Linked DNA regions of Homo sapiens: region 1 is linked to region 2. A link means that fine-mapping ties the variant in region 2 to the expression of a gene that starts in the linked region. Tissue or cell type: lung. Region 2 holds a variant in brackets; the other region holds the start of a gene. All regions are shown on one strand. Distances are from middle to middle.

Evidence for each region. PIP is the estimated chance that this variant, and not a neighbour inherited with it, causes the effect.
Region 1: it holds the start of VPS37A, and the variant in region 2 is fine-mapped to the expression of VPS37A in lung (TOPMed, PIP above 0.99).

Annotation. Positions count from the first base shown.
Region 1 is chr8:17,243,426-17,251,542 of GRCh38, forward strand. VPS37A (VPS37A subunit of ESCRT-I) reads left to right here and starts at 3,533. Exons shown (of 12, transcript NM_152415.3): 1 at 3,533-3,944. The coding sequence starts at 3,820. It overlaps CNOT7 (CCR4-NOT transcription complex subunit 7), which reads right to left and starts at 3,432. Exons shown (of 7, transcript NM_013354.7): 1 at 3,250-3,432; 2 at 1,611-1,822. The coding sequence starts at 1,727. RefSeq lists an enhancer at 3,181-4,029.
Region 2 is chr8:17,277,260-17,285,259 of GRCh38, forward strand. It overlaps VPS37A (VPS37A subunit of ESCRT-I), which reads left to right. Exons shown (of 12, transcript NM_152415.3): 7 at 2,769-2,896; 8 at 2,980-3,038; 9 at 3,116-3,184; 10 at 7,214-7,357. Among named protein-coding and RNA genes, the nearest start is that of VPS37A, 34 kb to the left of the region's middle. The variant A/G (reference allele first, on the strand shown) is at 3,901.

The DNA.
Region 1 (8,117 bases), 34 kb before region 2:
TTAACCAAATACTTACTCTATAACCAAGAAAGGGGGGAAAATCATAAATTCCTGTCTCCCAAAGGATACATGAAATGATGCTCACAGTATTCCAATGCTAAAACCAAGTTTCTTGAAGAACTGGTTCAAAAGAGGGGAAAACGCCCTGTACTTTCCAATTGCTTCTCTGACACAAGGTTTTTCTCAACACCAAAACCCTAAGAAAAACATCATTAGCTTCCTAATTTCTCTGGCTTAAACAATATTCTCTCTATAGTCCACAGAAAGCATGCTGTCAAGAATTGCATGCCACCTACTCACTCTTGTAGGATGTTATCACTTCTCTATGTTGCCACTCTTTATCATCTGAGAAATCAATGATCACTATGAATTTCCATTGGTTAAGAAAACAATTTTAGTTCTAATCATGGGTAAGTACACCTTTATCAAATAGTATGTCATCTACAAAGAAACAGTCATATTTTAACCAATCAACTTGCTCCTCCCCAAAGTAATGCATTTGTTTATTTTTATTAAAAATACTGAGACAAAGATACATCGGTTTAGTATTAGAATTCAAACTAGGGCTAGCTAAGAATAAAAACTACCTATCAAGTCACTATGAAATAGTAAAGAAATCAATATTTCTCTAAATTCAGTGCAATTCAACAGCCACTTTATTGAATACTATATGTGTTATGCTAGGTGTTGGGAGAGAAAGGATTAAAACACTTGGTTTATGGAGCTAATAATAATCCAGTGGATGTAGAAAACAGTAGGGTAGCTAACAGATATAGACAGTATAATGGTAAAGAAGAAAAATCATTAACTGGATAGACAATCTAGGCAGACCAAACAGCACGTGCAAAAGCAGAGTTGCTTAGTAACACAGTATATTCACAGAACTCCAGTGTTAATTATGAAAACAAATTGCAGACCAACAACGTTTCACTGGCACATCTGATTTTTTTGTTTGAGAAAGAGCACCCTAGCTTCTGGGAGCTCATGTGGTACTACCAGCTAGGCTTTGGTGTTGCTAGGAGCAGACCTGGCACTCATAGCCACGCCCTAATGTTCTCCTGTTGAACACAATTTCACAAAAGTTCAACCTCAAATAAGGCCACTCTGTAATCATGTCTGAACAAGGACAAAAAAATAAAAATGTCAAACCACAAAATGACCAAGTATCTCCATCCTGGCTAAATGAATGACTGTTCCTTCTCTGCAGCTTTAACCTCATTCTAGTCTCTCATTTAAGACTTAGTAAGATACCCAATCACAGAATTACCCCAGCTTCCCGAACACATCCAATCCACAGTAAAGCTCTGCTTCCCTTACCTTCCCCTAAGACCACCTGACACGAGCCCAAATCCTTCCTAACTCTTATTCAAACGGCCCATGGTTCCCATGAATTCCAGTGCGTTTTCCCTCACTGCAATGAGGGATAAACCCAACCTGTCAAATCACAGGTGTATTCCTGATGGATTTTGGCTGGAGGGCAGTGACAAATTTTACTTTTCATGGTGAAATTAATCCCTAAAAATATCAACCAAAAGGGTTGAATTCAAGACTTTAAAATTTCCTTTTCCTCCTTTATATGAAGCGTTTTAAAGATCTGCTTGTGGGCATACCATAGCAACGTAATTATATTTTCGGATAACTTGACGAATTTTCTTCATCTCTTCATCCAAGTTGCAAGCCCAAACTTCACAAATTCTTTGGCTATGATCTACAGTTGCCGCTGGCATAGTGAGGGCACAAGGGAGTCTAGATGCCAAGCATCAAAATGTTATACTTGATTGAAGATTTGTTTCATAAAATATTTTATCCTTTATTTATGTACCTGTCAAAATAAAAAAACAATATGAAGACCAGATATATCAAATCTGAATCACAGAATAATTGATCCAGCAGGAACCTAAGAAGTTATTTATTCAAAGTTCTTGACTCATAAAAAAAAAAAATCAAAGTTTAGAAAGTAACTTAAGGTCACACAGCTAGTCTATAGGAAAAAAAGGACTACAGTACAGATTTCCTGGTCCTAATTTCAGTTATTTTAAAATAGCTTTTTTACACATACATACTAATCATATTTTATAACTTTCCACTAATTATTTATCTGAGTTCAACTACTCTGCATAAAACTTTATAAAGCCATCCATTTCCAGACAAAAAATGAAAAATTACTTATTTACATGTGACAAGATCAGATGTTACCATGGCAAAGATGGTGTTTATTTTTATTCCTCATTAATAAAACAACCAAAATCCGACTTGATAACAAGATCTACTTTACCGGCGTTTATTCTAACTAGACTAGAGGGGTCAAAAATGTTTGTAAATGCTCTGAGAAAAAAGTAACGGCCATGAAAATTATCTGAATGTTCGCAGTTGCAGAACGGAAAAAGAACACAATAGAACGTCTAAAACTTAGAGCATATTGCATGGTTACCAAAGATAGATGTCACATTTCTGGTCTATAAACAGAGTTCCTGTTGATTCTTGGGCAGGGAAATTTCAAATCCTTCTGCATTTTTCATACAAATTGGAAAAAAAAAAAACAAGAGTAAAAAGAGGGTCTTATGACTGTCTTCTAAACTCTGAAGAGTCACAAATGTAACTTCCAATTCTCCAAGTAGAGAAACTAAAGGAGATCCAGGACACCCCTCCTTTATAACTCTCCCACCCCGATAGGCACACACACACACATAAGCACAAAAACACAAAGACTTGGAAAGACCCTGTAGTCTAACATTGTTTTCCTCCACCTCTCTCTCTACTGCAGTCCCAGAAGCCCCGAAGAGACACCAAAGGCCTTCTCATTACTGGAGAAAGCATCTCCGTACTGCAGTTTCCCAGAGAAACGAGAGGACGGCACCGAGGTATTCAAGCCATAGATAACTCTCTTCCCTGGCAAAGCGCCAGTGCGAAGGTGCTGATAACACTGACTGGAGCTACACTGACTCCCAAGCACTGCCGCGTGAAACAATACGAAGAGGTGAGGATCTAGGCCACCGCCCTCCACTCCCAATTTCCGTCCCACTGCGAAGCCCCAGGTACAAAGCCTTTGCGTCATCACTACGCGCCAACCCCTTGACAAACCCCCAGCCCCAGTTACCCAGCCCCCAACCCGCCGCCAGGCTCCTTCCTCCGCCAGCCGCACTCCAGCTGGCGCCATCGCGCACCCTCTCAGGTTCATCGTCCCCGCCCCCTTTCTACTTCCCTAACCCGCCCCTCCCCCCGTAAGGCTGCAGCGGATGCAAGATCTACTTGTGTCGCTGAGCTCGCGCTCCTCCTCCTCCTCCTCGCCATAGAGACAGCACTCGGCGGCGGTGGCGGTGGCGGTGGCGGTAGCGGCGGCGGCAGCGGGTGCCCCATAGACACCTCTCGCCCAGCGAAGGGAAAGGCGAGCAGGAGCTGCGCCGCACCGTGCTGCGCCGTCGCTTTTCGCACGTCCTGACGGGGGCGCTAGATGATGACGCGACACGCAGAGGGGGCGGAGAGCGCCCCCGGGGGCGGGGCACGCAAGTGACGGCGGCGCGGGTGGTGGAGCGCTGGGCGGCCAGGCTCCCTGGCTGGCCGGTTTGGGCGTCTGGGCCGTGAAGGTGGGACCTCCTGTTCCGGGCCGCAAGTTTCCCTCTCCAGCCGCCCGCCGTTCGTAGCATGTCCCCCAGAACTCGGGGAGCGCAGGCAGGACAGGCTTAGAGAAGACGCGGTCCCCAGCGCTTGGGCCACGGACGTCCCACCCCGCTCCTCTGTCGCTGGAGAACCGCCGGGCCGAGCCACTGGGAGAAGCAGGCCAGAGCCTTCCAGGGCCTCCGGCCCGTGGACCCGAGGAGGATGAGCTGGCTTTTTCCCCTGACCAAGAGCGCCTCCTCCTCCGCGGCTGGGTCCCCCGGTGGCCTCACCAGCCTCCAGCAGCAGAAGCAGCGCCTGATCGAGTCCCTCCGGAACTCACACTCCAGGTGACTGGTCGCTGCCTCTCCACCGGAGGAAAAAGTAGGGTGGGAGGGCGGGCTTGTCCTAACCACCCTCACAGCGCCTCAGTCTGCTCCCCACCAGCTCCTCATGTGGTTTACCTCCCTTGGTTGTGGGTCACACGCTTGCTCTGCCACTCCTGCCCCCTTTTACTGTTTTCCTCCGGACCCTCCCTGCCTCCTGCCGCACCACTGCTCAGCGCTTCTAACTCGGATTTCCTCATCCCTCCTGACACATAGCTGCTGACTGTAATCTCTCAATCTCTCTCATAGTCTATTTCCAGTATCCCTTGCTGCCCAGGCTTCGCCACTGATCTTTCCCTTTGCCCACCTGATTGCCGCGTCAGCAGAATTGTTAAAATACAATTGTGAAGAGTAATCTCCAGGTTTCACAAAGAATGGAAAATAGAACTGTTGCAACATCAAAGGAAAGGGAAGCCAGAGTTTTCATCAGTGAATGCTTCTCGTCTGAGAGTCACTTATCACGTAGTCAGTCTTCTTGAGTCTCTAAGATTTACCCTGTTGGAGCAGTCTCTCCCCATCTCACAGCGACCAGTGCATGTACATTTCTCACTTCTTTCATAGTCTTGTCCCCACGCTCAAGAATTACTTTATGTTCATCTTGATTGTTCTGTTGTCTTCCTGTGAGTTTTTCATTTTATCATGGTCAGTTTAGAAATATTTTTACAATTCATATTATTTCAACTTTTACTGTAAATTGGTTTGCTGCAGCCTTTTACATTGCAAATGTCTATGGTCTCTAATGGTTTTCAAAAATTAGAACTGCTTCTTTATATTTTATGCATTTTGCAAGTATATTTACTTAACAGTTTCACACTATTTTAAATAAAGATGACAACATTGTTAAGTCCCTAACCCCTTTTTTTTTTTTTTTTTTTGCCGGGGGTACGGCTCTCCTGTTGCCCAGGCTGGAGCGCAGTGGCGCGATCTCGGTTCACTGCAACCTCCGTCTCCCGGATTCAAGCAATCATCCTCCCTCAGCTCCCCACACCCCTCCGAGTAGCTGGGATTACAGGTGCGCGCCACCATGCGCGGCTAATATTTTGTATTTTTAGTAGAGACGGGGTTTCACCACATTGGTCAGGCTGGTCTCGAACTCCTGACCTTAGATTATCCACCCGCTTCGGCCTCCCAAAGTGCTGGGATTACAGGAATAAGCCACCTCGCCGGGCTCCTAGCCCTTTTAAAAATATTATTTTCATACAGTTAAAAAATATGTATCCTCAGATAATATCGAATAATTCTTATTTAAAATGGAATAATTTTTAATTAAATAGTCTAGTTAATAGAAAAATTTACTGCAAAATCAGTTTGGCTAAAATAAGGCCTGATGCTGACTGAACTTTAGGTGTTTCTTGGTTCGTTGTCTCAATTGTTCTGTTTGTTCAGAACTTTCAAAAGGTGAAATTTTATGCTGTTTAACAGAAAAGAATGGCAGGCTGTTATTGGTGGCTTTCATTCTGGAAAATTAAGTTCGCAAAGTTCTTACAAGTCACTCTTACTCCAAATCATGTTCTGTACTGACCTTTAAGAGCTACTCTCACAAGGTATGCTTATAAAATAAGGGGACTCGTTTTTAACATGTTTGTTCCCTTAGAAGTTGTTACCTTGGTAGACTATATACCAAACCAGTCCTGCTATTGCAGAAACACTTTTTTAGAACCACACTTTTGGAATTAATTGCTTTTAAACCTTAGTATGTAGTATTATGTTAAATATTTTCAATGCTGACTAATTTTTTTCTTCGAGGTTGGAGTTTAATTTTTTAAATACTACAAAGTCTCTTGCTGCTAAGGCTGGTAAGTAAGGGAAGTAATTGATGTGAAATTTATAATTTTGGCCTCCCAAATAAAGTGAGATTCTATAGCAGCAATTGTTAATGTAAAGAGTTCTGGAATTGGCTTAAGAGGATCAGTAAATACGCGGAGTTGGATACAGAAAGGATTCATTTTATGTATTATTTTTTGAACCAGAAATTATGAACGTATGATTGGACATGATTACATTAGATAATGTAATTTATTTTGTAGTGTTATGAACAAATAACTAAGTATTTTATTGTTTTAAGTTCTTTTATAAAAACACTTGAAGTTTTATTGAGATGTTTCGCATTTACAAATTATACTCGAATAATTCCGGAGACACTTAAGTAGGTCATATGCTTCCAGTTTTCAAAGAATGGCACAATCCTGGAAAATGCCACTCACCTATTCTTGTTAGTCCACCCTTTTAAATAATGACATATATTTGTAAGCTGGGAGGTAAAAAATAATCTGTCTGTATGGTATCTGATGTAAAGATGGAAAAGGTGTGATATTTTTTCTCATCAGTCATAAGGGGCACAGCTGACCCTCCTGTAACAAAAGACAGGTTAACAAGCGAAAAGCATAACAGATTTATTTAATCAAAGTTTTACACTGCATGGGAGCCTTCAGAAATGAAGCCCCAGAGACCGAAGGAAAACTGTCTGTATTTATGATTAGGTTCAATGAAGAATGGACAGCCATGTAGAAATGTGATTGGACAAAAAGAGTATGGTAATGGTAATAGACAGAGGTAGGGGAAACCCACCAAGGCCTGTTTGTTCAGATTTTTCTTGGCTTCTCTGTATAACTTTCTACTCCTCTAGTGGACCGGCCCGGGCTCATATGGAGTGAGGGTCTTCAGGGCGGAAGGGAAAGTGACCTTTCTAGATTTTTTGTAGGGAAGAAGGGTTGTAGTTTGTAATATACCGCCCAGGGGAGGAGGAATTCTGGTTTCTATGACTTCTTCAATGGAGAAAGAGGGGCAGGAGGTGGTCAGAGAGAGCTTTACTTCTGAGGCCCTCCAGACTCCTTTAATTCAAAGTAATCAGCCTACCAAAGTGCAATATTTTGGGGTATTGTTTTCTGAGCCCCAATACTGGCAATATGTTGCCTGATTACCTAAATTAGTGGTACGACTTACACTTAAAAGATTTTTGTGCGAACAGACAGATTGGTTATTCTAAAGGTGTGGTGTGTAAAAGTTGAAAGAATTTCCAGTGTGTTTTTTCCTATGAACAGTACAAAAACTTGTTACATGAGGAATATCAATATCTTGTTACATGCTGTCCATCTCCCTCATGTTTCGTTTTATGTCTCTTCTCCAAATGTAAGCTCAATAGGTGAATATCTTTTTTTGGCCATGAAAGTATCTTTTCTTCTGCTCTACTGAGTAACCTTTCTCTACCCCATTCTGTCATCTCCCTTCCAACTCTTACAATTTTTAACCCCTTATAATTCCGAAAATTCCACTTCAGCAGTCTCTTTTTGTCCCTTTCTCTAATGATTGTGAACTTTTTAGTTGCCTTAAATTCTTATCTCCTCAGCTACCTCAGTCTTCTACAAAAAAAATAGGTGAATTTTATGTAAATTTTTTCATCTGAGTCTCAACAATATGCACGGCAAATGAGATAACTGTCATAGATGACACTCACAGAAAAGTGTTTAACCAAAGTGTTTAAGTCAGCTGTGAAAATGGAAACTAGAAATTATGCCTCCTGGGCTCAAGTAATATGTTCTCTCTTCTAAGTATCACTTACCACAGTATTCAGTTTATCACCAAAACTCCTGACTTTATGGACAGGAGTAGAACTAATTCTGTTTCTTATACTTCCTGAGGAAGCTGACTTTATGGACACTGTTGGTTTTTCCCTCTGCAAGGCCCATACTTTGTGGAGGCTGGAATCTTTCAACCCAGCCTCCACTAGAGGTGAATAAGGATTGTTTATGCCAGTGATGATGGTCTCATCACCCTTCCCCCCAAGTTACTGTGGAAGCAGGACTCTTGGTTAGTGGGAGTTGGAGGGGAAGTCTGCTGGGGAGCTGCTCAAAATGTTTTCTCAGCAATAGTAACAAATGACTGGGAGGAAGAAATGTCTCATGTTTTGGATATTTTTATGTGAGACAACCCTGATCCTCCAATTCCTATCTGTAAAATCAGCAATTGTGATTCCTGTCATGCAGGATTTTTGATAACTAAAAAATATATGTAAGACATTTGGAAGAGTATCTAGCACATAGTAGGCATAGGACGAATTACATTCCTTCTTTCTACTGCATAGAATCAGTGTGCTTGAATCTTTGCCTCTTAGCCTATAAGCTTCTAGCCAGCTTATTG
Region 2 (8,000 bases):
AATAAAATGAATATTTACAATATACTGCATACATTAAAGGTTAATATGCATTGTAATGCTCACAATAACCCCATAAGGTAGGAGTTCTCATTTAATAAGATTATCTTTTTTGCTTTAAATTTTTTTTAAATAATTGTTATGAAAACATCAAAAATGCAAAAAAGGTGAAGAAACTAGTATAATGAGCCACCACGTATCCATCATGTGGCAACAACAGCTATAAACCCTTTTGCTCACCATGCTTCATGCCTCTTCTATCCAGCTTTCTTGGAGGGCTGTAGGTATGAGTCACCATTATTCTAAAGCAAATCCCAGATAATACATCCTTTTTAACCCATCAATTCTTCAGTAAATTTTTCTACCAGGTAAGGATTTTCTTTCCTTTTAACCATAACCCCAGTCACCATCATCATCATACCTAACACAATTAATGGTAATTCTTTAATATTACCTTATTTCTCCAGTGTCTTAATAATTAATATTTTTGTGGGCAGTTTGTTTGAATCAGGATTCAAAACGAGTTCCACCTATTGCATTTGGATAGTGGATCTCTTAAGTTCCTTTTAATAATGAACCATTTCTCCCCAACTTTTCTCTTTTATACACACACACACACACACACACACACACACACACACACACAGACATATACATATGTGTATTTACATATGTTCGTATACATGTACACAAATATGGGAATAAATACATGTCCATGTACATACATCCATGCGTGTATATTAGACATAGTGTGTGTTTATTAAATTGGTTATTTGTCCTATAAAATTTTCCATATCCTGTTTTTTCCTTAGTGCCTCCTTGTGGTACCATTGAAGATGTTTCTCTGTTTCCCATAGTTTATGCTGCTGGTGGCTAGAAGTAGACAAGGTTCAATTCTTTTGCCAATACTTATGTCATAATTACTGCATGCTTCTTTTTACATCCTATGAGGCAGCAGTGAGGTCTGGTTGCCCTTTTTTTAGTGACATTAAGATTATATCAGGTTAAAGCACCTGAAATCATTGACCATCATTAATATAGCAAGGGTCATAAATATGATTTAATGATTTTATCATTACCACCAGAATTTATTAACCAGAATTACTCTATGAAGAACTTGACTTAATCAACTACATATTTAGTTATACTGAAGTATACTTCATACAGGACCAAGAAAAATGCTTAAATTTTTCCCCTTATATTATCACCTGTCACAATAATGAGTTGCTGCACTATCTGTCTCCAAAAGTTGCTCTGATGGGTGAGAAACTCAAGTTGCCTTCTGTATCGTTTTTGGCAAAGTGAAGATGCTGTGGGCTCATCATGAACATTTCTTCTCCCAGACCTAGAGTCAGCCATTTCTCTGAAGGGTGCTTGTTCTTTTCCAAAATAACAATACCAGTACTGTTACTAAGATTATTGAATGCAGGTTAAATTTTTGTTTTTGTTTTTTACAGTTCTGTTGTCTTTAGGATATGACATGCCAGAATATACTGTTGTTTTTTTAATCTCTCCAAATAATTTTTCTCTGGGTGTTGATATAACTTAGAATATACAGGTTTATTTATTTTCAAAGCAGTCCATTTTCCCTGAATTTTAAAGACTGCTTTTTCTTTTCTTCTTTATTTTTAAATTATCCAACGTTTTTATATGGCTCCATAGTCAAAACTAAGATACGTTCAGAAAAGTTTTGCTTCCATCCATATCTGCTCCACCTAGTTCTTTCACCCTACAGATACCCATTTTTGTTTTTGGTTTAGCCCTCCATTATTTCTTTTCTTTAAATATTTTATGAATATCTGTACACACATATACATAAACACACATAAACATATCTATAACTCTTACTGTGACAGCCACACATCTGTAAGCTAAATAGTCACAGAGGTTAAAACGGAGTTGTTGTGACTGCTTATGTGCCGTGTCTTACTGGTCCTACAGTAACTGACATTATACACTAGCAGAGACTGTTTATCTTGTAGAGTCTTGGGAGATTTTACTGGCTACATTTTGGCCAACACATCCTTGGAATCATGCACTGACCTGGTCTAAAGCTGACTAGAGGAAAAAGCCAAAATGTTACAGTAACTACTCTGGCCTCTTTTCAGCTCTGTTTCCCTCTTATCAATACATACAATGAAATGACTAGGAAGAAATTCTTCTCATGCTACCTTGTCTGTGAACTTGTACTTGTCTGAATTTACTATAGTACTAGTGTGTTCAACATTATGCTTGGAAGAAATAAATAGCTTAAATTTTACATATCAGTAAGTCTGGTTCCTATCAGGGAAATTTAAGAAATAAGTGATATTCTCAAGCAATTAAGTTAAACAGAATTAAGAACAAGAAAAAAATACTTAACTATATTACTGCTGTCCTATTTTAAGAAACCTAAGCTGAATAAGCTCCTTAGTTTCATACATTGTTCTTTACCTGAGTTAAGTTGACTTTATTTTTAATTTCAGGTCACTGTATAACTGTGAACACTTCCCCACGGTTGTGATTTTTAAAGAAAGTAGATATATCGATATATCCATTGGACCAAAATTTACTTTTACAGATTCTGTCAAGAATATATTACAGACTGCTCTATGTTCCATTGTGGTTGATGTTTTATTTGATTTTAAGGTTAAAACTGGCAGCCTTAGGTGTATATGTAAAAATTATTTAGAACCCTATCAGTTAACTAAAGCTGAAAAATTGTAAATAGTTGTCATGGAGAAAAACTCGATGTCTGATATTTATTGACATTTTTTCTTTTGTGTTTCTAGTGTGTCACAACTCACAGATATGAATGAACAAGAGGAGGTATTACTAGAACAGTTTCTGACTTTGCCTCAACTAAAACAAATTATTACCGACAAAGATGACTTAGTAAAAAGTATTGAGGAACTAGCAAGTATGTTTTCCCTCTCCTGAGCGCACATTTCCTGAAAAAAATCTCATCTTTACCTAGAAGTAAACTAGAGATTTATCTTACAGGAAAAAATCTCCTTTTGGAGCCCAGCTTGGAAGCCAAAAGACAAACTGTTTTAGATAAGGTGAGTTAGTGATAATTTTGAAGAAATTTACATAATTTAAAAATAGAATAAAACAACCTTTTCATTTTCTCTTTTAGTATGAATTACTTACACAGATGAAGTCCACTTTCGAAAAGAAGATGCAAAGGCAGCATGAACTTAGTGAGGTAAGACTGTTTATTTTTTTCCCTTTGCCATAGATTTTTTTTTTAATCTTATGTGCATGAGTCCTGATCTCACTTTCATTATCATCAGAAACCATTTATGAGGTATCTGACCTTATAAGACATGATACCTTTAAACGTGGATGAACAGCTCTCAGTGATGAGGCATCATACATTATTTGTGCTCATATAAGAGCGTATTTGTTTCTAAAACAGAAAATTATGACAGGCCCTGACACATAACTTTTCTGGGTAAGTTATGAAACCATTGTAACACTTGTAGTGAAACCTAGCAATAACAACAAAAACTTTCGACTCACTTGTAAGCTTATCTACAAATACCTTAAATGAAAAGTTCGCAAATTAAAAAGAATAATATATGAAAAATATATAGTATTATCTGCTACAAATAAGTTTTATGCTAGAAATCCAGTTATGTGAAAATCAAAAGAATTTTATAAAATTCAACCTATATTTCTGAAAAAAAAGGAATCTTTGAAAAGGAACCAGAGGACATAATCTTTGTATCATACCAATAACAACCTCATAGTTAATATTCTGTTTCCTGTAAAATTAGGAACTTTGGGTAAAGTCAATGAAATAAAACATAAAATAGACATAAACCAACAACAGCAAAAAAGATGGTAAAGGAGAATATAAATTTATAATGAATTTCAGATAATACGGTCATTTGTCAGAATAAAGAAATAATAGCTAAC[A/G]TTGAGCAATTAATATGTCTTGCACCGCATGAAGCTATTTACGTATATTGGGCCATTATTACACCAAATCCTATGAAATAGGTATTGTTACTTTTTCCCATTTTACATTTTACAGATAGGGAAACTGAGGCACAGGGAGATTAAATAAATTTCTTGAGGTCATACAAGTAGAAACATTAGTTAGGAGTGTAACCTAAGCAGTCCTCCTTCACAGAAAATCTGTGAGACTCAACTGAAGTACTGTTAGATATATACTGGACCTTAGTAAATGTTGAAGAAGCTTTCATAGTACTCAACATCATTCTTTATACAAACTCTTAGTAAACTAAAAATAGAAATTTCTTATTTGAAAAAGAATACTAGAAACCAGCAGTAAACCTCACAATTACTACACATTTCTAGGATCCCATTAATGTTAGGAATAAGAGAGTAATGCCTCATGATCACTGCTGTTTAACGTTGTTTGGGAGGTTTTGAGTACTGCAAGACCAAAAAAAAGTGGTATAACATAAAAAGAAGAAATGAAACAGTTGTTTACCAAAAATAAACAATCAAAAATTCTAGAGAACTGAGAAATTTTTTCCTGTTTGCTCCAGCAATTACTACTGCAAAATGAAGTACAGAAAACAACTCATTTACCATAGGAACAAAATTGTAAAGTACTTAGAAGTAAACCCAATGAAGTAAGTTAGGAAACTTTATTGAATGCCATAAAAGAAGAGCTGAGTTTTGTATTTTCTAAGACTATTTAGAGCAGCATAGAATATTCATTGAATGAAAGATCCATTATTAAAAAGATTTCATTCTCCCCAAAATAACTTAGAAATTGAATACAGTTCTTATCAAAATGCCAAGAATATTTTTTTTATCTTAACAGTTTATTCTAAAGTTCATCTGAAACTTTATTTTTCAGATGGGTAGTCAGGAAGAGCTTGAACAAAAAGAAAAAATGAAAAAAACTCCCTTTCCCAGTATCAGAATACACTGTAAATCCTCATTATTTAAAACAGTATAGTAGTTTTATAGGAAGAGAAAATTATTTCTATGGAACAGACTATGTAGTTCAAAAATAGACTTGTGTATGTGAATAATCAGTTGGAAAAAATTGAGGATTCAATAAATTATAAAATTGGTTATTTAGTATCCATTTAGAAAAAGGTTAGATCATTGTATCATACAATACACAGAAAGTTTATTACAGATAAACTGCTTCAGCGGAAACCATAAAACGTCAACTAGCTTCTAGGATTTTTTCTTTAAGATTATGGTGGGAAAAGCCTTTCTTAGCATAATAAAACAGATATGAGCATAAAGGAAAAACTCGACATATTTACCTCTACAGATTGAAAACTCAGATATATTAAAAAATCATGAAATCAAAATTGAAGTTAAAAAAAGGGTACAGATATTTTTAGCCTATACAACAAATACTAATGCCAGTGGTCTATTGGAAAAGGAAACAACAGGAAACTGACAAAAGGAGAAATATAAATGTCCAATAAAGATTCTGCTTTAACAGTTATTCTGATCCTTAAACATTCATATAAGAATTGCTGGAAGTGACTCTTCAAACACTTAAAAAAAAGACACACACACACACACACACAAAACAATGATTCCTAGGCTTCTTTCTAGATGTTCTCAGTCAAAATTTTCTGGGGATGATGAATCTTCTGCGCTCTTACATATGGAAACCACTTCATTAGACCATTGGTTCCGTGATGGAGGAATCTGTTCTGTTTCATTTCTACTGTACACCTAATATCTGGTTCAGTGGTTGGCACATAATAGGTACTCAATAAATATTTAATGAATAAATAACTGGAAACTTTGGAAAATATGTTCAACTTTACTGTAATTTTTTAAAAAGCCAAATAAAACATCCATGTGAGCCATATTTGTGAAGATAGATAACCAGTTTTGGCAAGGGCAATGAGAAAATGGTGCATTACAGTTCATTTTTATTTATGAGTCACAAAGAGATACTACCCCACATGCATTAGCATGGCCATTATTTTTTTTTTCTTACTCTGTCACCCAGGCTGGAGTGCAGTGCTGCAGTTACAGCTCACTGCAGCCTTGACCTCCCAGGCTCAAGCGATCCTCCCAATTCATCCTCCCAAGTAGCCAAGGCTACAGGTGCATGCCACCACACCTGGCTAATTTTTGTATTTTTTGTAGAGACGGGGTCTCGCTATGTTGCCCAGCCTGGTCATGAACTCCCAGGCTCAAGCCATCTGCTTGCCTCAGGCTCCCACAGTGCTGGGATTACAGGCATGAGCCACCACGTCAAGCAGGATAGCTATTATTAAAAAATCATTTTAGTGCCTAGATTTAGGTCTTTGATCCATTTGGAATCAATTTTGTATTTAAGTAAGGTAAGGGTCCAACTTTTTTCCTTTGCCTGTCGATAATCCAGTTTTTTCCAGCACCATTTGTTGAAAAGATTCCTTTCCCCATTAACTGGACTGGGCTCCCTGGTTGAAAATCATTTGGCCATATGTGTGAGGGTTTATTTCTGGGCTGTCTATTCTGTTCCATTGTTCTTTATGTTTTTATGCCAGTACCACAGTTTTGATTACTGTAACTTTGTTAGTAACTTGACATGAGGAAATATTAATCATCTTTAAGATTGTTTTGGCTATTTGGGGTCTCTTGAGATTCCGTATGAATTTTAGGATAGGTTTTTCTATTTTTGCAAAAAATGCCCTTGAGATTTTGATAGGGATTGCATTGAGTCTATAGGTTGCTTTGATTAGTAATGTCTTCTTAAGAATATTAAATCTTTCAACCCATAAACATGGGATGTCTTCCAGTAATTTATGTCTTCAATTTCTTATAGCAGTGTCTACAGTTTTCTGTTTATCAGTCTTTCACTGCTTTAGTGAAATTTAATCCCATCATTTTTGCCTTATTCTATTGAAATGAGTCGTCAGGTTCAGCCCACACTCAATGGTGGGATTATGCAAGGGCAGGAATACCAGGAGGTGAGGTCATTAGTGGAGCGTCTCCTTAGCATATATCTACCACAGTGATTTAATTCGTAAATCCTTAGGAGAGAACAATGATTTTCCCAGTTTCTCTCATTTAATAGTTTGCAGCCAATAGATTAGTTTCTCTTGAGTTAGGTGTCTACCCCTATCCAAAAGCTAAGGACCTGGGTGGGGCATTATAAGACAGCAGATTTTCTCAAAAAGAGGCTATATAGGGCATATAATAAATTGCCTCTCCATACCACTACCTTACTTCCTTTCCCTGTGAGGAGTTCTTGTGAGTATCATAAATTAAAGTAGTGCCTGATTTTCTTTTTCAGAGCTGTAGTGCAAGTGCCCTTCAGGCAAGATTGAAAGTAGCTGCACATGAAGCTGAGGAAGAATCTGATAATATTGCAGAAGACTTCTTGGAGGGAAAGATGGAAATAGATGATTTTCTCAGTAGCTTCATGGAAAAGAGAACAGTATGTAATACTCGTCAGTTGAGGACAAGTATTGGATAAAGTTTGGTATTTTTATAGAGGAGGAGAAGCACTGGGTGTTAGCTATTTCTCTATTATGATATCATCCCCCTTTTTTTGTACAATATATTTACCTGAAAGGAAGGTTTCTATTCCTTGGGTGTGGACTTGGGCAAAAACCAGGTTCCTGGAACTTAAAACTTTGAAGGTCTGTCATAGGACTCTGGACAGCCACACACCTTAGCTATTCCCAGGGGACCCCAGGGGGGCAACTGCCATTGCTCTAAGATGTCCTTTTGATGTGACTTGAGATATAAATGAGAGTGAGGGCCTGTACGTGTGGCTATTTCCTGTCTGGTATGTCAGAGGAACAGTCCTGGTCAGAAGGGGGCTCTTCTGAGCAGAAATTGCTAATAAACTTTGTGCTGATCTGGAAAAAAAAAAATTTTTTTTTTGACAGCATAGTATCAAATTACTTTAGCATACTCATGAGTGAAAAACATTAGCACATTACTGAACTGGAGTTTTGAGTGCTGTGAGAGGAACCTGAAAAGCCTCTTGAGAATAATAGCAGCATCTTCCTATCACTTTAGACTTGCTTTTTCTGAGTATACAAGCAGGTAAATCAAATAGTTGTTTCAGAAAT